Linked DNA regions of Homo sapiens: regions 1 and 2 are each linked to region 3. Evidence: fine-mapped QTL for protein levels in blood plasma. Region 3 holds a variant in brackets. A gene starts in each other region. All regions are shown on their reverse strands.

Region 1 (8,179 bases), not on the chromosome of region 3:
ATTTCTTGTGACACACCTCACAGTGAATTGTGATGGGCTGGTGGCTCTCTCACTGTTTCAATGATTTCTTGCCTTATAACAAACCCAACTTAGTGGCGTAAAACAAATATTATTATGCTCACAGTTTCTGTGGGTCAGGAACTTAATCAGGGCCCAGTGGTGATGGCTTGTCTCTGCTCCAGCTGGGACCTAGAGTCATCTAAATGCTTCTTCACTCGCATGTCTGGTTCCTGAGCTGGGGTGATTCAAAAGCTATACTGGGACTATCAGATGGAGTACCTATATGTGGTCTCTCTGTATGTCTGGGCTTCTCACACCATTGTGGTTAGGTTCCAGGATGTAGCATCCTGACCGCTTTTCTTTTCTTTTCTTTCTTTTTTTTTTTTTCTTTCTCGAGACGGAGTTTCACTCTTGTTGCCCAGGCTGGAGTGCAATGGCGTGATCTCCGCTCACCACAACCTCCACCTCCCGGGTTCAAGCGATTCTCCTGCCTCAGCTTCCCGAGTAGCTGGGATTACAGGTATGCATCACCACACCCGGCTAATTTTTGTATTTTTAGTAGAGATGGGGTTTCTCCATGTTGGTCAGGTTGGTCTCAAACTCCCGACCTCAAGTGATCTGCCCGCCTTGGCCTCCCAAAGTGCTAGGATTACAGGCCTGAGCCCACGGAGGCTGGCCTTTTTTTTTTTTTTTTTTTTTTTTTTTTTTTTTTTTTTAAGATGGAGTTTCTCTCTTGGTGGCCAGGCTGGAGTGCAGTGATGTGATCTCGGCTCACCACAACCTCCACCTCCCGGGTTCAAGCATTTCTCTTGCCTCAGCCTCCCGAGTAGCTGGGATTACGGGGTCATGCCACAACTCCCGGCTAATTTTTGTACTTTTAGTAGAGACAGGGTTTCACCATGTTGGCTAAGCTGGTCTCAAATTCCTGACCTCAAGTGATCTGCCTGCCTCAGCCTCCCAAAGCACTGGGATTACAGGTGTGAGCCACCATGCCTGGCAGTACACACACATACTTGCACACGTGTGGGCATGAACATGCACAGTTACGCACCTTTGGTTAGACTCAAGTTCAGGCAGACACTCATTTCCATACAAATACATACATAGTCACAGAAGTCAGGCACACACAAATATACACAACGAGTCACAAATTTTGCCTGCATCACCCAGACATCCACACCCAGTCACAGACCCACAATCACACACACACTCAAGGATTCACCTATCACAGAAGGTTCCAATTCCTTGTTGTTTATTTGTGCATAATGTATAAAAGTAAAACAATAAACTCAGCCCTATGTCTCAGTCAGGGCTGCAGCTTCATAAATAAAGGGTGAGAGGAAATAAATTAAGGAAGGAGTAGGGCTCAGCGCATAAATAAGGTGTGGGGTGTCAGGTGGACTCAGGGTGGGTTGACGTTCTCAGACACAGGTTCCCATCGGCCACATATTTGAGGTCTCGCGTGAGGAGGCGGAAGAGGTTGAAGGTGACAGATGCCTCCAGGCAGCCAGCGGACTCCTGTAGGGGAGGAGGGGATGGGTCAGGGGCTGTCCAGGGTCTGGGCTCCTATTGGCTCCCCAGACCCTGGTCCTTCTCTTCCTGGGTCACTCACCTTTTTGGGGGCCTCCTGGAGCCGGTGCAGCCAGTGGTGGAGGCGGCCCCGGGGCCTGGGCCCTGCTGTGGGCTGAGGCTGGATCTGTGGGCAGAAGAGGGCGGTGTGTGAGGCGGAGCCTGGGCCACCACAGGGGAAGGATGCTGCTCAGAGCCCACAGACCTGGGTGCCCGGGCCCCAAGGACTCACACAGGCCTGGAGCTGGGAGAGGATGTGGTGCAGGGTGTGAAGGGGCTGGTCTAGGACGTCCTCCAGGGCTGGGCCAGCAGCGGCCTCCAGGACCTTCAGCGTCAGGGCCAGCTCAGCCTCCAAGGCCACAGGGCGCTCCCTCACCTGAGGAGAGGTGAGAAAGAGCAGGTGAGGGAGAACAGGCAAGAAGACCCAGTTAGTGGGGACAGGTAGGCAGTCCTGGGGAAGGTCGGTGACACAGTGCATGTGGTGGGGACAGGTGAGGGGTCTGGGGAGAAGGAGACAGGAGGGGGAAGACATGAGGAAGGATACAGGTGAGGCAGGATGGTCAAGGAGGCAGGTGAGGGGATAAGTGAAATGGAGACAAATGAAAGGGGACTTACGGGGGTCACAGAAGTTCTCTGGGGCGGGGTGGGGACGGGTGAGGAGAAAGCAGGTTGGGGGCACAGTAAGAGAGGGACAGTTGCATGCACAGAGAAGAAGGGTAGGGCTGGGTGTGGTGGCTCACGCCTGTAATCCCAGCACTTTGGGAGGCCGAGGCGGGTGGATCACCTGAGGTCAGGATTTCGAGACCAAGCCTGGCCAACATAGTGAAACCCCGTCTCTGCTAAAAATACAAAAATTAGCTGGGCATCATGGCACATGCCTGTAATCCCAGCTACTCGGGAGGCTGAGGCAGGATAATTGCTTGAACCCGGGAGGCAGAGGTTGCAGTGAACCGAGATCATGCCACTGCACTCCAGCCTGGGCCATAGAGCAAGACTCTGTCTCAAAAAAAAAAAAAAAAAAAAAAAAAAGAGAAGGGTGGATGAGGGGGGAGCATGAGCTGGATGAATGTCAGTGAGAGATAATGAGGGACAGGTGACAGAGGCAGGTGAGAGGGAGAGGGGGTCAGTGTTGGGAACAGACAGGGAGAAGTGGAGCAGGACGAAAGGCACAGGTGGGCGACAGACTGGAGACATTTGGGAGAGAAATGAAGAGTGAGAGTGGAAGTGACAGGGACAGGTGAGCGAGCTAGGGAAGTGGGGCCGATGGGAGATGATAAAAGGGACCCAGGGGAAGGACAGAGTCAAGAGAGCAGTTTTGAAGTGGCAGGGGCACAGGACAGGTGAGGAGAGGTCCAAGAGAGTGAAGGACAAGGGAAACAAAGAAGGCTAAGGGGCCACTTAAGAAGAGGGGGGAGAGGGTCAAGGGAAGGGTGAAGGGGGCCTGACTTTCAGCTCACCTGGAGAAGCCTCAGGTCCCAATTCCCGGGGAAGACAGGAGAGCTGCAACTCCAGTTTTTCAGCTTGAGTGACTCTTCCTAGAGAGCAAGGGCAGGGGTTAGCCCACAGCAGGATGGCTGGAAGCTAGCTCATAGCAGCAAGGATGAAGTTGGCCTGACAGCATGGGTTTAACCCAGTGCAGAAAGGATAGAGGTTTGCCATAGTTGGAAGGCTAGAGGCTAGCCCACAGTAGAAGGGCAGTAATTGGGACACCCGTAGAAGTGGTTCATCCACAGCAACAGGAACTCACCAAGGCGTCCCTGGCCTTCTTGAAGCTCGCTAGCTCCTGTGGTGACAGAGATTTGAACCTGCCAATGTGGCAGCCCTTCCCAGTTGTGGTGGGCTTGGAAGTGGGGACAGGGCCTGCCACGGCCAAGCCTAGCACCAAAGTCACCAGCACCACGGTCCAAGCTGCAGCCATGGCTAAATCGCAACTGCTTCCCCAGCGGCATGGCTCTGCTTTTTAGCCACGCAAAATGGGCAATCCAAGATGATGTGTGTAAAGTGAAAAGGTAATTGGAAATGAGAATTTCCACTTTGACTTAAGAGGCATGAGTGGGCGGGGCCCGTCTGGGAGCCTGATGAGGGAACAGGTGTGGGCAGGGCCAAGTGAGCTGGGAGCTGCATCAAGAAGGAAAGAGAAACTGAAATCCTTAGAACTCCCTGGGCAGCTTTCAGCCAACTGGCCTCAGGGAGTCCCTGACGGAGGCTGAGATTAGGGATAAGGCTACCTGAGTGGCAGAGAGGAAGCTTCTTTTTTATTCTAAATTAGCCAGGTGTGGTGGCATGCGCCTGTGGTCTCAGCTACTCAGGAGGCCGAGGCATGAGAATCACTTGAACCCGGGAGGCGGAGGTTGCAGTGAGCCAAGATCGTGCCACTGCACTCCAGCCTGGGTGATGGAGTGAGATCCTGTTTCAAAAAAAAAAAAGCTTGTTTTTTATTTTATTGTTATTATTATTTTTTGAGACGTAGTTTTGCTCTTGTTGCCCAGGCTGGAGTGCAATGGTGCAATCTTGGCTCACTGCAACTTCTGCCTCCCGAGTTGAAGCGATTCTCCTGCCTCAGCCTCCTAAGTAGTTGGGATTACAGGTGCATGCCATCACGCCTGGCTAGTTTTTGTATTTTTAGTAGAGACTGGGTTTTACTATGTTGGTCACGCTGGCTTCGAACTCCTGACTTCAGATGATCTGCCTGCCTTGGCCTCCCAAAGTGCTGGGATTACAGGCGTGAGCCACCACCTTACTTTATTATTTATTTATTTATTTTTGTAGAGATAGGGGTCTCACTATGTTGCCCAGGCCAGTCTTGAACTCCTGGCCTTAAGCCATCCTCCTGCTTCAGCCTCGCAAAGTGCTAGTATTAAAGGCATGAGCCACTGCTCCTGGCCAAGAAGGAGCTTCTGCCATTGGTTTAAGAATGTCCCATTAACTAATTTCAGTTCATGCTCCTAATGTTTCTCTGAGTAGTTATTTTTATAATTGTGATGGTTAATTTTAGGTGTCACCTTGACTGGTTAAGTTTATCAGATAGCTGGTGATGCGTTAATTCTGGGTATGACTCTGGGGTGTTTCCAGAAGAGATTGGCATTTGAATCAATGGACTGAGTAAGGAAGACCCGTTGTTACCCAATGTGGTGGGCACCATCCAATTGGCCGAGGGCCTGAATAGAACAAAAAGGCAGAGGAAAGGAGAATTTGCTCTCTCTTATGAGCTGGGACACCCTGCACCTGCCCTTAAACATCAGAACTCCAGGCTCTTTGGTCTTTGAATGCTGGGATGTGCAGCTGGGCATGGTGGCTCACGCCTGTAATCCCAGCAGTTTGGGAGGCTGAGGCAGGTGAATCACTTGAGGTCAGGAGTTCGAGACCAGCCTGGCCAACATGGTGAAACCCCATCTCTACTAAAAATATAAAAATCAGCCAGGCGTGGTGGCACAGGCCTGTAGTCCCAGCTACTTGGGAGGCTGAGGCAGGAGTATCGCTTGAACCCTGGAGGCGGAGGCTGCAGTGAGCTGAGATCATGTCACTGCACTCCAGCCTGGTCAACAGAGTGAGACTCCATCTCAGAAAAAAAAAAAATGCTGGGACTTGCACTAGCTACCCCCTAAGTCCTGAGGCTTTTATTCTGGAACTGAGCTGCACTACAAGCTTCCCTGGTTCTCCAGCTTGCAGATGGCCTGTTGTGGAACTTCTTAGCCTCCCTAATTGTCTGAGCCAATTCCCCTAATAAATCCCCTCCTATCTCTCTCTCATCTATCTAGTCTCTCTCTCTCTCTCTCTCTCTCTCTCTCTCTATCTAGTCTATCTCTCTCATCTATCTAGTCTATATCTCTCTATCTATCATCTATTTATCCAAACATCCTATTTGTTCTGTCTCTCTGGAGAACCCTGACTAATACAATAATCATGCCCATTTTACTAGTGAGATAACTGAGGCATAGGAAGGCAAAGTGACTTGCCTAAGGTCCCACAGTGGGATAGAGGCAGAAATGGGGTATGATGAGTCCTATGTACTTGCTCCCTATTCCATATGCAGCCCAGGTAGAAGATGAGAACCTCTGGGGGTAGCAGGCCCACTTCTCCTTTCTGTCCCTCTGGGTAGCATGAGAGGGGTAGGGAACTCCTTATTCGCTGGGGGCAAGCGCATTTCCTGGGGACTGGAGGGGCTGCCTGGAGAGAAGGCAGGCGGTGAGTCTGGTTGCCTTGCTATCATCATCCCTGCAGTAATAGTAATTGTGTAGCAGGTAAGAAACTGCTCTGATGTGCAGACATTTCCTATTTTCACTCCTTTATTTTTTTTCTTAGCCCTTTGGTGCAGAAAGTTATTAATCATACTCTTCAGATCATAACACAGGATCACAATTGGCCCATGAAAGACCCTCCAAGGCTTTTATTCCTCCATTGCCAATTCCCATTCCCATCGCACCCCCACAGACACCCACTATAATGCACTTGATAAATAGCTGCAAAGATGTATCTTTATAATTTGTGATCTCGTGTGTGTATGTGTTTCCAATTTACATAAGTGGAATTGTGCTATAAATCTTCTACTTCTTTCTTTTTTATTTTTTAACTTAACACTGCTTCTGAGATCTCTTCACAAGCTGTGTACATCAAGTTTCCTGTGCACTGTATTTCATGGTGTATACAACCACAGCACTTTTACTTACCTATTCCCCCAGTGATGGACACTTAGGTTGCCTCTAGCTCCCCATTACCATAAGGCTCACACCTGTCCTCTGGGTGGGCGGCTTTCTGGAATATACGGTAGCACACCAGCTGATGCCCTCTACTGTATCCCCTCGGCTTGTGGATATGGTGGTCAGTTCCCACACAGGCTGACAGTTTCCTGCCTCACGTGCTTGGATCTTTCTGCTTCTCTGCTGGAGACCAAGGCCTTTCTACTGCCCACATGCAGAATGGACTGGAAGTAGCAGGATTGATTCCCCCAGTAGCAGTCCTCAAACAGTGAGGGCTGAAAGCAATGGAATAAATACTGCAGCTTCCCTTTCCCTTGGAGGGTCAATTCTCGGGCGACTTCTACATGACTCCTTGATCTTCTGACTGTCCCCAGAACAAATGACTTCTAGCTGCTCACAGCAGTAGCCTTTTTGGGGGCTGGAATTAGGGTGGGTCAAATTAGGGGACCAGAGTCAAAATTTAAGCAGGGGGCCAGGCGTGGTGGCTCACACCTGTAATCCCAGCATTTTGGGAGGCCGAGGTGGGCAGATCACCTGAGCCCAGGAGTTCGAGACCAGCCTGGCCAACATGGTGAAACCCTGTCTCTACTAAAAATACAAAAATTAGCTGGGTGTGGTGGCATGTGCCTGTAAACCCAGCTACTCAGGAGGCTGAGTCACAGGAATCGCTTGAGCCTGGGAGGCGGAGGCTGCAGTGAGCCGAGATTGTGCCACAGCACTCCAGCCTGGGTGACAGAGTGAGACTCTGTCTCAACAAACAAACAAACAAACAAAAATTAAGGAGGTGCTCACTCTGAGTCAGGGAAGTGCTCTAGGTGCCTCCCTCTACTCCAGACTCTGCACCATTTATTGGCTTTTTGCTCTTCCTGGCTCAGTTTCCCCACTCGCTTGTGCTTCTGGGAAACAGCTCCCAAATAAGCCACCTGCATCTTTGGCTTCAGGATATGCTTTTGGGAGAACCTGAACTGAAGATTGCTGGGTCACAGGGCATACCTGTGCTTATATGGTCTAATCAGTGCTGTTCATTAGAACTTTCTGCAATGACAGAAATATTGTGCATCTTTACGGTCCAATGTGGCTGTTAGGTATTTAAAATTTGGCAAGTGCAATGCAGGAACTGAATTTTCAATTTATTTCATTTTATTTAAATTTAATTACTGTATGTGGCTAGTGGCTATCATGATGGGCAGCACAGCTCTACATATTCATCCTTTGCTCTCCCAAATAGTTGCACCTGTATCCCTCTCTCCAGAAGTGCTCGAGGGTCTATATGCTGGCAATACTGTAGCCTCCCCAACACTTGGATCTGATTTAGATGATGAGATCCTGGGGCTTGCATCTGAGCCTGCCATAGTAGATGAGATTTTTGAGGTTGAGGAAAGACATGAGTCTATTTTGCATGTGGAAGGAATATAAATAATTTGTGGCCAGAGAGCTGACTGTTAAAACTTGTCTTTGGCCTGGCACGATTATTCATGCCTATAATCCCAGCACTTTGAGAGGCTGAGAAGGGAGGATTGCTTGAGCCCAGGAGTTTGAGCCCAGCCTGGGCAACATAGCAAGACCTCATCTCTACAAATTAAAAAAAAAAAAAAATAAGGGCTGGGCGTGGTGGCTCACACCTGTAATCCCAGCAGTTTGGGAGGCCGAGGCAGGCAGATCATCTGAGGTCAGGAGTCCAAGACCAGCCTGGCCAACAGGGTGAAACCCTGTCTCTACTAAAAATACAAAAAATTAGCCAGGTGTGGTGGCGCTACTCGGGAGGCTGAGGCACGAGAATCGCTTGAACCCGGGAAGTGGAGGTTGCAGTGAGCTGAGATCATGCACTCAGCCTGGGTGACAGAGTGAGACTCTGTTTCAAAAAAAAAAAAAAAAAAAGTTTAATCCCCAGTATGGCAATGTTGGGAGGTGGA
Region 2 (8,179 bases), not on the chromosome of region 3:
AAGCCTGTAACCCCAGCAATTTGGGAGGCCGAGGCGGGCAGATCACCTGAGGTCGGGAGTTTGAGACCAGCCTGGCCAACATGGAGAAACCTAAACCTCTCTACTAAAAATACAAAATTAGCCGGGCATGGTGGCGCATGCCTGTAATCCCAGCTACTAGGGAGGCTGAGGCAGGAGAATTGTTTGAACCCAGGAGGCAGAGGTTGTGGTGAGCTAAGATTGCATCATTGCACTCCACCCTGGGTAACAAGAGTGAAATTCCATCTCAAAAAAAAAAAAAAAAAAAAAAAAGTAATGGCAGAGGCTGGGAGCGGTGGCTCATGCCTGTAATCCCAGCACTTTGGGAGGCCAAGTCGGGTGGATCCCTTGAGGTCGGGAGTTCGAGACCAGCCTGGCCAACATGTCGAAACCCCGTCTCTCCTAAAAATACAAAAAGTAGCTGGGCATGGTGGCAGGCATCTGTAGTCCCAGCTACTCAGGAGGCTGAGGCAGAAGAATCACTTCAACCCAGGAGGCAGAGGTTGCAGTGAGCCGAGATTACACCACTGCACTCCAGCCTGGGTGACAGAGGGAGAATATATTTAAAAATATAAAATAAAATATAGGCCGGGCACGGTGGCTCACGCTTGTAATCCCAGTACTTGGTGAGTCCAAGTTGGGTGGATCACCTGAGGTCAGAAGTTTGAGACCAGCCTGGCCAACATGGCGAAACCCCATCTCTACTAAAAATGCAAAAAGTAGCCAGGCATGGTGGCAGGCATCTGTAGTCCCAGCTACTCAGGAGGCTGAGGCAGGAGAATCGCTTCAACCCAGGAGGCAGAGGTTGTAGTGATCGAGATCGTACCACTGCACTCCAGCCTGGGCGACAGAGAGAGATTCCCTCTCAAAAAAAAAAAAAAAAAAGTAATGGCAGAAACCGCAATTACTTTTGCACCAACCAATATATAAAAATACATTATATATTTAAAAATATAAAATAAAATATAGGCCAGGTGCAGTGGCTCACGCCTGTAATCCCAGCACTTTGGGAGGCTGAGTCAGACAGATCACCTGAGGTCAGGAGTTCAAGACCAGCCTGGTCAACATGGCAAAACCCTGTCTCTACTAAAAGTACAAAAATAAGCCAGGCATGGCGGTGGGCGCCTGTAATCCCAGCTACTCAGGAGGCTGAGGCAGGGGAATCGCTTGAACTCCGGAGGCAGAGGTTGCAGTGAGCCAAGATCGTGCCACTGCACTCCAGCCTGGGCAACAAGAGCGAGACTCCATCTCAAAAAAAATTAATTAATTAATTAATTAATTAAAACAAAATAAAATAAATATATGTACTTAAAATATATATATATATTTATTTTTAAATAGGGATAGGATCTCTCTATGTTGACCAGGCTGGTCTCGAACTACTGGCCTCAAGCAATCTTCCCATCTCAGCCTCCCAAAGTACTAGGATTGCAGGCATGAGCCACTGCACCCATCCCACCATTTGTAATTGTGGGCGGCAAGCCACCCAGGTGCCAAGGCAAGAGACTGAGGACACGAGCTGTTCCAGTATAATAAAATATAAAACAAGAATAGTTATACCAAATATAGATCTTAGAGATATATGAATATCATTAATCATTAGTTTGTAGTAATTACTCTTTATCCCAATAGTATAATAATCCTCGGTCTACAATCATAACCTAGGAAAAACCAGGCCATACAGAGATAGGAGCTGAGGGGACATAGTGAGGTGTGACCAGAAGACAAGAGTGCAAGCCTTCTGTTATGCCCGGACAGGGCCAGCAGAAGGGCTCCTTGGTCTAGCGGTGACGCCAGCGTCTGGGAAGACGCCCGTTGCCCGAGCGGACAGTGGTCTAGCGGTAGCGAAAAGTGTCAAGGAACAACACCCACTACTTAGCAGACCGGGAAAGGGAGGCTCCTTTTCCCTGGGGGAGTTTGGAGAAGACTCTGCTCCTCCACCTCTTGTGGAGGGCCTGACATCAGTCAGGCTCGCCCGCGGTTATCTGGCAGCCTAACCGTCTCCCTGTGATGCTGTGCTTCAGTGGTCACGCTCCTAGTCCGCCTTCATGTTCCATCCTGTACACCTGGCTCTGCCTTCTAGATAGCAGTAGTCATTTAGTGAAAGTACTAAAAGTCTCTGATATGCAGAAATAATGGCATAAGCTGTCTTTCTGTCTGTCCCCTCTCTCTCTCTCTGCCTCGGCTGCCAGGCAGGGAAGGGCCCCCTGTCCAGTGGACACGTGACCCACGTGACCTTACCTATCATTGGAGATGACTCACACTCTTTACCCTGCCCCTTTTGCTTTGTATCCAATAAATAACAGCACAGCCAGACATTCGGGGCCACTACCAGTCTCCGCGCATTGCTGGTAGTGGTCCCCCGGGCCCAGCTGTCTTTTCTTTTATCTCTTCGTCTTGTGTCTTTATTTCTACACTCTCTCGTCGCCGCACACAGGGAGAGACCCACTGACCCTGTGGGGCTGGTCCCTACAGTAATTTTAAAGGGAAGAGCAACAAACTTTCGGTTTGCAGGGCTGGGACTGTTTACAGCTGCAAAATTTAGAGAGGACATCAATCTATTATTATCCACATTTTACAGCTGGGGAAATCAATGCTAAGAGAGGAAATTCATTTGCCCAGAGGTGCACCACCCTGGCCTCCAATGTGCAATTCATGCAATTGTGATTTCCGACCTGGTCCCAAACTAACCCTAAAGTTAGCAGGCCAGAACAGTGCTGCTCAAATAAGTCAGCTTAGTCAAATAAGTCAGGCAAAGGTCGTGTCTTTGCACCTGGAGTCCTGGCCAGGCTGGTAGGTCCCTCCTCCTGGGACAAGTTCACCCTCAGAATTTTCAGCAAGATCATCTCCCACAGCTTGTTAATTGGTTCTTGGTTCTAAGTGATTTTTTTGTTTATTGGTTTAAGAGATGGGATCCCACTCTATCACCCAGGCTTGAGTGCCGTGGCACAATCATAGCTCGCTGCAGCCTCAAACTCCTGGGCTCGAGTGATCCTCCTGCCTCAGCCTCCCAGCCTCAGCCTGGGACCACAGGCATGTACCACCATGCCTGGCTCTAAGTGGCTTTAATGGGGTCCTTCTGAGGGATGTTGGAGTCAGGGCCTGGGGGGAGTTCCCCAGGCCTTCTGGGAGGCCTGGGCTCTGGACTTGACCTCGCCTACTGTCTGGCCCTGCTGAAAAGAAAAAAAAACATGGAAATGGCAGACCTAACAGAATCTGGGCTGTGGTCAGGATGTGGCTGAAGAAGCCACAAGAAAAACATGCAGTCCCCTTTCAGCGGTCATGCCCAGCAGTTGGGTGCCGATAATGGGCCTGATTTCCTGTAGGAAGCCCTGGCTCTCTTGGCCACATGGACAGTGTCTGAGGCTGGCCCTGTTATTCCCCTTTGCAGATGAAGAAACAGGCTCAGAGAGTTTACCTGGTATCCTGGAGTCCCAGGAGCACTTTTTCTGGAAGTAGGAGCTTGTTTCCTGCAGGTGCCAAGACAGAGACCGACATTGTTTGTTGGCTGGGTCGGTCTCCCAGTTTTCAGCTGGCTCCAGTCTCACCTGTTGCTCACACACCCTCCATGTCTCCCATAGTCCCCTCGGTGGGGACAGAGGCACTGGATGAAGCCCTGCTCGTCACCACAGAGACACCTGAACACAAAAACCAGTCCCTGGGGTCAGACCCAGGCCCCGCCCCCAGACCCAGGCCCTGCCCTCACTCCACCACGCAACTGTGCAACCTCAGTTTCCCCAGGTGGAGACCGGACCAACAGTGATGGCCTCTGCCTCTTCAGGTCATAGTACAGATGAATACAGGCTGGCACGGCCTAGGCACTCAGTAACACACAGCAGAGGCACAGGGACTTAAGATGGAGTGTCCCAGGCAGCCACAGTTGGCTGGCACCCAGCTGGGAAGGGCCCAAGGGCTTTTAAAGCAGGGTGAAAAAAAAGCCCACCTCCTTTCTGGGAAACTGAAACTGAAAACCTAATTAATCCTCTGCCTGTAGGTGCCTCATGCAAGAGCTGCTGGTCAGAGCACTTCCTGGAACTTGCTATTGGTCAGGACGTTTCCTATGCTAATAAAGGGGTGGCCCGTAGAAGATTCCAGCACCCTCCCCTAACTCCAGGCCAGACTCTAAAGGGGAGATCTGGATGGCATCTACTTCGTATGACTATTGCAGAGTGCCCATGGAAGACGGGGATAAGCGCTGTAAGCTTCTGCTGGGGATAGGAATTCTGGTGCTCCTGATCATCGTGATTCTGGGGGTGCCCTTGATTATCTTCACCATCAAGGCCAACAGCGAGGCCTGCCGGGACGGCCTTCGGGCAGTGATGGAGTGTCGCAATGTCACCCATCTCCTGCAACAAGAGCTGACCGAGGCCCAGAAGGGCTTTCAGGATGTGGAGGCCCAGGCCGCCACCTGCAACCACACTGTGGTAAGCTCCTCAACTCCTTTGGATGGCCTAGTACTAGGCGGTGGGAGGGACAAGAATCTCTCCCCAGAAATCTGACCCAGGGTGGGTCTCCAGGGAGATGCAGGGGAGGTCCTGAAACTGCTCCTGGGCCCCCACATCAAGGGACCTAGGTTCCCCTACCAGGGTTTGTGGGCCCCTAACCCAGTCCAGGGCACTGGTGTAGGGGCAGGGTGTTAAAACTCTCCAGATCCCCCAAATCGGGGACCTCAGTATCCCCCTGGGACTTAGGTGAATTTATAAATTCTTTCCAGGGCACTGGTGTCGGGGGCCTTGAAACTCCTCGTGGGCACCAGTCCTGGGGGAGTAGAAATCCCTATTCAGGGTTGAAGGGGGACCTCACCAGACCCTGAAAAAGGGGGCTTTTGAAATTTTCACTTCATCCCTAAGAAACTGAAATATTCACCTGGGTCCTGATATGGGGGATCTTGAAACTCTCGCTGGGCATGTCACTTGGGCGGGGAAATCCCACTGCATTCTGGATTTGGTAGGGCCCTCTAACTTTTCTTGGGCCATTGCTCAGGCAATCTGGAAATGTCCACTAAACTTTGGTTATCGATAGCCTCCAAGTTTCCACGTGGGGTGGCCTCAAAACTCCCATTTTGAGGACCCACATGCTTATGGGTGGCCCTGGGAGAGTGTGTGGTTGTGGCTGTTCTTTAAGGTTGGAGACCATGGTGCAGAGAGGGTTGGAAGAAAACCTGAAAGGGGTTTGCATTTAAGCCCCTCTGTCCCCAGGACCTAGGGAGGAGGCCCAGGTCCCAGGGGCAGCAGCCAAACTCCCCAGGCCAAAACCCCAGATTCTAACTCTTCTTAGATGGCCCTAATGGCTTCCCTGGATGCAGAGAAGGCCCAAGGACAAAAGAAAGTGGAGGAGCTTGAGGGTGAGAAAGGGAGAAGGGAGAGGGCCGGGGAGGGGTGAGTCAGGTATGGAAGAGGGGGTGGGGGCAGGGAGACCAGGGCTGGAGGTTGGGGTAAGGGGGAGGTTCTGTCCCAGAGTGGAGCAGGGCCCCAGCATGGCCACATGCTGACCCGCCCCCTGTTTCTGTCCTCCCACCCTACCAGGAGAGATCACTACATTAAACCATAAGCTTCAGGACGCGTCTGCAGAGGTGGAGCGACTGAGGTCAGAGATAGCCTTCCCCCGCTACCCTCCACCTGCCACATTCCTCTCACCCCCACATCCCTAGCCCAAGACCCAGGATCTCCTTTGCTCCCAAAATCCCCATTGCCCCAAGGGATAAAGTTTGAGTCCCACAAAAGGATAACTTAGCCCCTAGGGTCACAGAGCCATGGGTGGCCGCTGTCCATTCCCTCCCCGGTGACTTGGATTGGGGCGGTGCGGGGGGAACTCCCGGGGGCGGTGGGCTTACAGGGAGGGCGGCAGGAGCCAGGACGAGCAGATGCCTGATTTGCCATCTGTACCGCAGAAGAGAAAACCAGGTCTTAAGCGTGAGAATCGCGGACAAGAAGTACTACCCCAGCTCCCAGGACTCCAGCTCCGCTGCGGCGCCCCAGCTGCTGATTGTGCTGCTGGGCCTCAGCGCTCTGCTGCAGTGAGATCCCAGGAAGCTGGTCAGTGAGGAGGGGGCGGCCCCGGGAGGGAGAAGAAAGCTGGGGAAGCGGGGCGGGGAAGCAGAGGCTCCGAAGTCTAGAGAGAGAGGCTGCAGGGGAAGGGACTGGGCGCAGAGGTGAGGGGCCTTGGGGAAGGAGGGAGAATCCAGTGAGAAGGATGCCCTGGATCGGGGACGGGCTGATAGCTGTATGGGGCGGGGCTATCAATGGGGGCGGGTCTATCGATGGAGGGGAGGGGCTTATGGATGGGTGGGGCGGGTCTAGCGATGGGGGCGGGGCTTGGGGCCGGGCTTGGAGCGGGGCCAGTGTCTGCTGCCTCCAGTCTGCCCTGAGTCCCTCTTCTGGTCCTTTAGGCACATCTTGGAAGGTCCGTCCTGCTCGGCTTTTCGCTTGAACATTCCCTTGATCTCATCAGTTCTGAGCGGGTCATGGGGCAACACGGTTAGCGGGGAGAGCACGGGGTAGCCGGAGAAGGGCCTCTGGAGCAGGTCTGGAGGGGCCATGGGGAAGTCCTGGGTGTGGGGACACAGTCGGGTTGACCCAGGGCTGTCTCCCTCCAGAGCCTCCCTCCGGACAATGAGTCCCCCCTCTTGTCTCCCACCCTGAGATTGGGCATGGGGTGCGGTGTGGGGGGCATGTGCTGCCTGTTGTTATGGGTTTTTTTTGCGGGGGGGGTTGCTTTTTTCTGGGGTCTTTGAGCTCCAAAAAATAAACACTTCCTTTGAGGGAGAGCACACCTGACTCTCGAGTTCCTGGAGTATCATCGTTTTAGTACCCAAGCGTTGGGGCCGCCCCTGCAGGTGAGAGTGGACACCCCGTTGACGATGACACCTCCCTTCCCTGCTCCAGGACGTTTTCAGGAGCCCACGGAGTTCGGGGAGGCACCACCCCAGTTCTTCCCAGCCCTTGTCTCTGCTGGGATCAACATAAGAACTATGCACCCTCATCAGGGCTCACCGTTTCCCAGGTGTTGTATTCTCATCTCCTCCCTAGAGCCTCTCCTGATTCCTGGGGATCCAGTGAGGAAACTGAGGCTGTAACTGAGAGTAACCTTGTCTTGCTTCCCTTCCCGCCTGCAGAAAATGCTGGGCTGGGATTTAAACTGGGATCTGTACACACACACAGGCCATGCATTGTCAGAATGTTTCCCCCTGCTTCATCCCCCAGATTCTCTCTCTCTCTCTCTTTTTTTTTTTTTTTTTTTTTTTTTTGAGACGGAGTTTCGCTCTTGTTTCCCAGGCTGGAGTGCGATGGCGCAGTCTCGGCTCACCGCAACCTCCGCCTCCCGGGTTCAAGCGATTCTCCTGCCTCAGCCTCCCAAGTAGCTGGGACTACAGGCTTGCGCCACCATGCCCGGCTAATTTTGTATTTTTAGTAAAGACGGGGTTTCTCCATGTTGGTCAGGCTAGTCTCGAACTCTCGACCCCAGGTGATCTGCCTGCCTTGGCCTCCCAAAGTGCTGGGATTACAGGCATGAGCCACCACCCCCGGCTCTTTTTTTTTTTTTTTTTTGAGACAGAGTTTTGCTCTGTCGCCCAGGCTGGAGTAGAGTGGCACGATCTTGGCTCACTGCAACTTCTGCCTTCCAGGTTCAAGTGATTCTCCTGCCTCAGCCTCCCGAGTAGCTGGGATTACAGTACTACACCACCACACCTGGCTAATTTTTGTATTTTTAGTGGAGACAGGGGTTTCATCATGTTGGCCAGGCTGGCCTCAAACTCCTGACCTCAAGGGATCTACCCACCTTGGGCTCCTAAAGTGCTGGGATTACAGGCATGAGCCATCACACCTGGCCCGATTCCCCAAACTCTTATTCATTCTGCAGTACCCAGCTCTGGGAACCCCTCCCCCAGAGAGTCTCTCTGCTTCTCCACAATTGAGGGCTGCAATCCCGACGGACCCTTCACCTACCTTATTCGATCCTCAAAGATGCCATAGTCCCTTCCTTCTCTGTTATCTTACTTCCTCCAAGTTCTCCCGGAATCCCGGCCATTGTCTCTGCAACTCCAACTCCTGTTTGTGGTAATGGAGCCAGGAGTCCCTTGTCCCAGATTTCTGTACTATCCTAAGGTCCCACAGTCCCCAGCCCAGACGGTCAGTGGGATTTAAAAAAAAAAAAAACCCTC
Region 3 (8,179 bases):
CCCCATGTCGCAATTGAGATATACTTCTTAAAGTCCCTAGATTATACTGATTTGAAAAAGAAATTACCTCTTTCATCCCAGAACCTAACTAGGATTAGGTAGAGGGTTGGTGTTTAGTAAGCATTGATTACTTGATTGATAGACTAATTGAATTTATTTCTGAAAGTGTCTGGAATAAGCGTTGAAAACACATGACGTATTGAATTGTGTTGCCAGGCGTTAGAGAATGGATGAATGATGAAAATAAGATTTCCAAATTTGCTTTTTTGAAGGCTTAAAATAGCATTTAACTAAGTAATCAAGACTTCTATAAAATGGTCTTGTATTTTCATTCTTTTTCTGTTTCCCCATAGACATTTTCTACTTGATCTATTATTTTAATTTAGGATTCCCACCCCATTTCCTAGCCCCTGCCCGTAATTACAGCAGGCCTTCTGAAAATGACTTTATACATAGGTTTGTGTCCAGCAAGTACCCAAAAACTTATTCATTCATTCACTCATTCATTCAGTTTGAATTTATTGAGTGGCATCTTTGTGCCGGATGCCATGCTAGTGGTGAAAAGATAGGAGAAAAACACAGAGACTGTTTTGTCCTTTCGTGAAGTTGTGTTGTAGTGTTAATTAGTGTTGATAAAAGAATGTCTACTGTAGGCCAGTCATGGTGGCTTACGCCTGTAATCCCAGCACTTTGGGAGGCCGAGGAGGGTGGCTCTCGAGGTCAGGAGATGGAGACCATCCTGGCTAACACGGTAAAACTCCGTCTCTACTAAAAATACAAAAAAATTAGCTGGGTGTGGTGGTGGGAGCCTGTAGTCCCAGTTACTCGGGAGGCTGAGGCAGGAGAATGGCATGAACCTGGGAGGCGGAGCTTGCAGTGAGCTGAGATGGCGCCACTGCACTCCACCCTGGTGACAGAGCGAGACTCCATCTAATAAGAAAGAGAGAAAGAAAAAGAAAGAAAGAAAGAAAGAAAGAAAGAAAGAAAGAAAGAAAGAAAGAAAGAAAGAAAGAAAGAAAGAAAAGAAAGAAAGAAAGAAAGGAGGGAGGGAGGGAGGGAGGGAGGGAGGGAAGGAAGGAAGAAAGGAAGGAAGGAAAGAAGAATGTCTACTGTATACAAGGGACTATTCTAAATACTAGAGTTTCAGCAATAAATATATGCCATTTTATCAATCATTATAATAAAGCAATCCTTAATGGTAAGGGGGTACCCCTGTACTGCCTTGCTCCTCTTTTAGGATGCTAAGTTACAATTTGGCATTGTTACATCTTAGTTATAACTAAGTTACAACTTGGCACACCCATCAATTTAGGCAGTCATGAACTCTGGGAACGAAAGTGATCATATAAACATTTCCATAGTGTCTTAATAATCAAGCTGAACAGCTAAAGAGAGATGCATGTTTCATCCCTGGCCAGTTCAGAACACAATGCATCTGTAGTCCTGGAGACTCCACACACCTTCCATTTACACAGAAGAACCAGAGATGCCATGACTAGTCCACCTAAGAACAGTCCAGTTCTCCCAACATGAAGTTGAGCACCCAAGTCAATCTCCCCAGGAACATTGTATTGTCTGGCAAATTAGGAAAGATAAGAATTTCATCTGCAAAAAAAAAAGTATGAATAAGAAATTAGCTATGTCAATGTGACAATAAATATTCATTGGGTTAAGACATTAACTTTTTGTGGGAAACTGGTTCTTTAAAATTCTTTTTTAACATACAGGTTTTGCCTCCTGATTTACTTTTATCTGAGAGTTGAACTCTGCTGGGTTAAAAAAATCACCATTATATTTAAATAGCTATCTAAGGTTATTATAAAGGGAAGAAAACATTTTCATTAAACTGTACAATTGTGTTGGTAAGCCAGTGCTTTATGGAAATGTCATTGGTTTCTTCACTGATTTCTGTTGGAAAGAAAAAACATATCAAAGAATTTAGAATATGAAAGCATTGAGTTGTATTATTACCAAATTAATTTTATTTCGTATTTCATAAATTAGTTAACAATGTATTAATAGACTACATAGTGAAAACATCCATCCATTTTTAACTTCACAGAGAAAACTTCGAGTGGGGGAGGGGCATGGGTGAGAATTGTTTTATGACTTGTTGCAGTCTCAAATGTAAATATTCACCTCCCACGAATTTCTGTAATTGTGTTTACATATTGGGATCAATATCTTTACAATGTTTTAGGAGAACATATTAAATTTTTAAAATTATATAATTGCTTCAAAGGGAGCTGATGTACTTTCCAGCACCAAAACTGAGAAGATTTCTTAAAAATTCAGCATCTTGATGAGGCTGCTAAAATTGCACAGATATATGTAGTTCCACATTCAAATTGTAAGAATATGTTTAGGAAATAATGACATCATGATCCTTATATGCTTGGACTCAATAACGGCAAAGAAAGCTTGAAAAATATGATTCCACAGTAAAAGTTGACTTAATAGAATAGTGGTTGAAGAAAATTTTGTGGATAGAATATGCTTAGGGATTTTTAATAACAGCATTTGTTGCCTCACTGGTTCTTTTTAAGGAAATCCTTCCTGATTGCTTCAGTCAAATATATTTAAAGCTGATTAAAGGATGGGGTAATAAAATATGAGAATGGCTGAGTTAAAAGAAGACACTGAAACCAGTCTTATTTACATCTATAGCAATTACTTGTTAAATTAGCAGATGATAATAAAGATGTTACAACATCAGGGAAGCCAAAGAATTTCCATTAGGAGACTAAGAGAGCTAGAAAAAAATGGTAAAAAATGAGCAAAAATCTGCTTAGAAAATGTTGTGGGTGACATGGACTGAATTCACTTGAAATTTACTGAGTTCAAATAGTTATTTTTAACCACTTCTTGCCAGAAAATGAATTTAAAATTGGAGAAAATTATAAGCTATAATTATAGTTCAAGAAGGCAGGATTCAGCCTCTAAATTCAACTGCCTGGGATCAAATTCTACTTCTGCCACTTACTCACTTTGTGACCTCAGAGAGGTACCTAAACATCTCTGTGCCTCGGATTTCTGATCTGTAAATGAGTTAATATTGGTACCTATTTCTGGGCTGCTGGGTTAATATATTCAAGTTCCCTAGAACAGCATGCTTAACTACTAGATGCTAAGACGGAAATATCCCTTGGGTAGAGACCATGCTGTATGTGCTTGTGCAGGTGAGGTGTTTGTAACAATAACTCTTCCCAATCATCCATAATAGTTCTAACACTGAATTAGTGCCAGACATTGTTCCAAAAATGTTAACAAATTTCTGACATAAAAGGTTATGGAATATATTTATAGAACTAGAAAATACATAAATTTGTAGGAAAGAACTAAACAATCCAAATGATACATGTGGAAGATTGGCAAATGTTGAGAAGGACCTTTGATAATATCAAAGTCAATATTTCTTATCTGGGAGGCTGATAGAATCACATGAGATGTTTTACTTTTTCTTTAATATCTGAGTTCCTAACATAGACAAAATAAATCATAATCTTTTAGGGGTGTTTCCTAGACATCAGTATTTTTTAAGGCTTTACGGTTGTTTCTAACATGCAGCTAAGATATAGAAACTCTGAAATTTCTTTTCAGCTGCCTTGTAACCACATATTGTAACCAAGGTCTAGGGAGATGAAGTAAATTGCCTAATGCCACAGAAAGCTAATGATGTCCTGCCTAACTTCTTTCATGTCTAAACATGGCTTGAGTTACTCTTTCCTCCAAATCCTTATTGCTATATTAGGACCTAGGGAAATGCACTGTGACAATGATTACACAAAAGATCCACATTTAAAAGAAATTTACTAATCTAAAAGAGAAAATAAAAGAAGGCTAAAGACTCTAATGAATGGATATAAAAATAATTCTGCCCCATATTTCCAAAAAAAAGATATAACAATAAATTTCCCATAACATTAAAAAAACACAAATTTGAGAAAAATTGATTATAGTAATAATCAACTATGCAAATATTACATAGGAAAAAATATAAATCTGCAGTAGTAATTACTTATTTCATAATGATAATCATGAAGAAAGGAGATAAGAAATGTTTGATTTCCCATTTACAGACTCCATAGATTGAAAAAATATAGCCAGCCCTAGATATACAGAAAGAAATTGGTGAAAATAGACATAACATGGCTGCAGACTAAAGATACTTTCTCTTCTATCCTTTATTCAGGAATGGCTGAG[G/C]TAAAATTTATTTTCTAGGTGTCAGGTTTGAATAATTCAATAGCTTTTAAAAAAAATGGTTCATATTTAAAAGGACACTTGGTCCAGAGATTTTTGTTGTTGTTGTTGTTGTTGTCCCGGAGATTTTTTTCCCTGCCGACTTCAGAATTGCTACAGGTAACATTGCTATTTTCTTCAATGTTTCAATGTAAGCCTTTATTTATACTTATGCTTAATTGCTCAGTTTTTCTAAAGGGTATTTCCTGTTTAAGGTTATTCAGAAGATGTTTGATCTTACTTAATTCTAATTTTCTCTTACAACAGATTGCTGCTGCAGAAAACAATGGAAATGAATCAGGTGTAAGAGAGCTACTAAAAAGGATTGTGCAGAAAGAAAACTGGTTCTCTGCATTTCTGAATGTTCTTCGTCAAACAGGAAACAATGAACTTGTCCAAGAGTTAACAGGCTCTGATTGCTCAGAAAGCAATGCAGGTATTTGTAATTTTACTGAGGAAGATTCTTCAAATTCTGCCTAGTGATTGAGAATTCAATAAAGCAGAAAGACACAATGCTAAACACCAAGATTTTTAGAATCAAAATTTTAAGAGTGGAACATATGTGATAGATCATCTATTTTATCACCTTAACAAATGAGGAAATTGATGCCTGGGAAAATATCAACTGATCAAAGACCATTTTTCATCCAACCAACACTCTTTCTACTACCTTATTTTAAAAACAATATGACTACCAGAAATTTTATCAAGATTATGTAACATTAAATATACACAAATACATTGGAAGAAAGTATTTTAGTGGTTATAAAAAATCTGCTGCATATTCTTCTGAACATTTTTATACATTTTAAGCAATGTATTAAGCATTTGATAAAAGGATTGTTTTGTCAATATATCTCAACCTTACCTAATGTGAGATTTTAAACAGCATTCAATAATAGTAATAACATAACATTTTATAGCTCCTTCTCCTACATTATTTGTAAATCTCACTTAAACTGCTATCTTATTTTTCTTTTCGTAGTATGCATCCTATGTTTCCAAAAATATCATATGAAAGACAAATTGAAAGTTAACTATTAATTAATTATAATCATTGCAGTTTTGTTCTGGTGACCCTAACTAATGAAAACTTTGCTGTAAAAAGTGGGGTGCTGCTGTAACAAACACCTAAACGTGTGGAAGTGGCTTTGGAACTGGGTAATTGATAGAGACTGTAAGAGTTTTGGGTGAATGGTAGAAATATGGGTGTTCAGGGTGATTCTGGTGAGGTCACAGAGAGAAATGAGAAAAATGTCATTGGAAACTGGAAGAAAGGTGATCCTTGTTATAAAATGGGATAAAACTTGATCTCACAAGTAATGGATTTGGATATTTGGCTGAGAAAATTTCTTAGCAAAATGCTGAAGGAGCAGCTTGATTTCCCCTAACTGCTTATAGTAAAATGCAAAAGAAGAGAAATTAATTGAAGGAGTTGTTATGCAAAAAGGAACCAAAATTTAAATATCTGGAAAATTCTCAGCCTATCCATATGGCAAAAAATGAGAAATTGTGTTATAAAGAGAACAACCAATTGATAACAAGATCATGGGTGCTACTGATGGACTTAATCAGCCATTTCAGCAGAAGGTAGGAGTAGAGATATATTATACCAGCAAATACACTTCCAGTTTGAACTGAAGGAGACAGAGAAAGCAGGACAGAATGAGAAAAGGATACTGGACTTTCTGGATTCTACAGAACCAGACCATAGAGCTATTTGGCTGTGAATGTGTACTATTCTTCAGGGAAAGGAAAGAATGCCCCCAAAAGTGATACAGAAGTCATCAGGGTTGCCACTTCCACCACAGACCCAGAGGCCAAGGCAGTTTCCTTTTTGGTTTCAAAGGGCAAAACTGTCTCTCTGGTTTTAGTGAGCCCTCAGGATGACCCTGCCTAGTGTCTCAGAAGCAGAGCTATCCTCACAGAAAGCTGTGTGGATGGAGCCCTTAGAGAGAGCAGGCTGTCTTGCAGAGCCCTAGAACCTGCCATTCCGTGGACCTGGAAGGCAGAGCATCAAACCAAACAGAGCTATTCTCAAGCCTTATAAGCCTTAAGATGTGACAGAATTTACCTTAATAAGTTTTGGATTTGCTTGGGACCCATCACCCTTGCTTTCTTTCCTATATCTCCTTTTTGGAATAAGACGTCCATCCTATGCCTGTCCCACCATTGTATTATGGAAAAGAAACATGTAGCTCAACTGGTTTCACAAGTTCACAGCTGGTGATGAATTTGCCTTATCATGAATCACACCTCTAGTCTCATCTACGTCTGATTTGGACAATGTTTAGGTGAGACTTTTGACTTTAGACTTAGAGTTCATGCTTCAGTGAGTTAAGGCACTTGGGCTGATGAGATGAGATGAATGTATTTTGTATGTAGTAAAGATATGAATTTTGGGAAGCCAATGGTAAAATGCTACAGATGGAATTTTGTCCTCCTAATACTCATATGTTGGAACCTAATATGACTCTATCTGGAGACAGTGATAGTAGGAGATAGTTAAGATTAAATGAGCCAGGCCAAGCGTGGTGGCTCACGCCTGTAATCCCAGCACTTTGGGAGGCCAAGACGGGTGGATCACCTGAGGTCAGGAGTTTGAGACCAGCCTGGCCAACATGGCGAAACCGCATCTCTACTAAGAATACAAAAATTAGCTGGGGTGGTGGCATGCAGCTATAATCCCAGCTACTTGGAAGGCTGAGGCAGAAGAATCACTTGAACCAGGAGGCTGAGGTTGCAGTGAGCCGAGATCATGCCACTGCACTCTGGCCTGGGTGTCAGAGCAAGACTCCGTCTCAAAAAAAAAAAAAAAAGATTAAATGAATCATAAGAATGGGGCCTTAATCTGATAGAATTGTGGCCTTTTAAGAAGAGGAAGAAAGAGAAAAAGAGAAACATCTGTCTCTTTCTCTCTCTTAACCGTGTGAGGACGCAGGGAGAACGTGGCCATCTGCAAATCAAGGAGAGAGTCCTCATCAGACATTGACCCTGCTGTCACCTTGATCTTGGACTTCCAGTGCCCAGAACTGTGAGAAAAGAAGTGTCTGTTGTTTCAGCCACTCAGTTGATGGTGTTTTATTATGGCAGCATAAACAGACTACTGTAGGAGCTTAGACTCTGGGTCCTGATACATATCGGATCCTGATGCTTATCAAATCCAGGCTCCTTCCTTGAATGTGTGACCTTTGGCCAGGTTCTCGACTTCTCTATGCCTCAGTTTACTCCTCAGTAAAATGGAGATAATAATATTACTTATCACCTCAGTAAAATGGAGACAATAATATTACTTACCATCTAGGTTTATTTTGAGACTTAAATAACTTAATGTATGTAAAGTATTTATATTGTGAGTGCAAAATAAATTAACTATTATAATAGTCCCTAATGTACTTAATATCTAACTGCAAACATTGCCAAGTTTTCTTCTTGTCCAAAGTCACAACAGTTTTCTTTAGGAAATTTTCCATACAAAGTGGGGCACATTTTCACTGGGTTCTTTAAGATGAGATAATAAAAAATGATACGTTAGAAAATTTTCCTTATGGCATCAGTCTTCTCTGACAGATTGCAGCTTCATAAAGGCAAAAACTCTTGATTTTCTTTTTAACCCACATAAGCCCTTAATAAAATACCCATTACATGTAGTTGAAGTAAGAAAAGCTGGAAGTGAGGAATGGAGGAAAGAAGAAAAGAGGGGCACAAAATATTTCATTAAATGTTTTAAAAATCCCCAGAAATTCAGAATACATGAATATAGGCTGACATTAAAGCAGATGTACGTCTCGTGCAGAACACACAGTGAGGAAACAAAATGGCAAGAGCAAAGCTAAAGAAAACTACCAAATTTGCATTTTCATTAATTCAGCCTTAAATGTAACTTTGTGTCACTGAATAAGTGACTTACTTCCTAAACATGACGGTCAGACAGGAAATC

Direction of the effects. Alleles are on the strand shown, and positions count from the first base shown. The strength of an association depends on the size of the effect and on how common the allele is.
For the plasma level of the protein whose gene starts at base 3,502 in region 1, C is the low allele of the variant in region 3 and G is the other (weak association).
With allele C in place of G in region 3, the plasma level of the protein whose gene starts at base 4,103 in region 2 is lower (weak association).

Evidence for each region. PIP is the chance, under the fine-mapping model, that this variant and not a neighbour inherited with it causes the effect. The UK Biobank Pharma Proteomics Project read protein levels with antibody pairs (Olink). The fine-mapping took linkage between variants from a reference panel, not from the people measured, so its PIPs are less certain.
Region 1: IFNL1 starts here. The variant in region 3 is fine-mapped to the plasma level of the IFNL1 protein (UK Biobank, PIP 0.96).
Region 2: it holds the start of BST2, and the variant in region 3 is fine-mapped to the plasma level of the BST2 protein (UK Biobank, PIP above 0.99).

What each region holds. Positions count from the first base shown.
Region 1 is chr19:39,291,730-39,299,908 of GRCh38, reverse strand. It overlaps IFNL1 (interferon lambda 1), which reads right to left and starts at 3,502. Exons shown (of 5, transcript NM_172140.2): 1 at 3,317-3,502; 2 at 3,027-3,104; 3 at 1,802-1,945; 4 at 1,613-1,696; 5 at 1,236-1,518. The coding sequence starts at 3,487. The coding sequence ends at 1,393.
Region 2 is chr19:17,401,554-17,409,732 of GRCh38, reverse strand. It overlaps BST2 (bone marrow stromal cell antigen 2), which reads left to right and starts at 4,103. Exons shown (of 5, transcript NM_004335.4): 1 at 4,103-4,442; 2 at 5,296-5,362; 3 at 5,544-5,604; 4 at 5,909-6,053; 5 at 6,407-6,794. The coding sequence starts at 4,158. The coding sequence ends at 6,038. BISPR (BST2 interferon stimulated positive regulator) reads right to left here and starts at 4,047. Exons shown (of 4, transcript NR_130766.1): 1 at 3,962-4,047; 2 at 3,437-3,656. It also overlaps a transcript of MVB12A not described here. RefSeq lists enhancers at 1,865-2,391, 3,092-3,141, 3,342-3,391, 3,442-3,501, 3,692-4,071 and 2 more and a silencer at 6,448-6,616.
Region 3 is chr2:162,307,261-162,315,439 of GRCh38, reverse strand. IFIH1 (interferon induced with helicase C domain 1) reads left to right here. Exons shown (of 16, transcript NM_022168.4): 2 at 4,507-4,675. Among named protein-coding and RNA genes, the nearest start is that of IFIH1, 7.3 kb to the left of the region's middle. The variant G/C (reference allele first, on the strand shown) is at 4,204.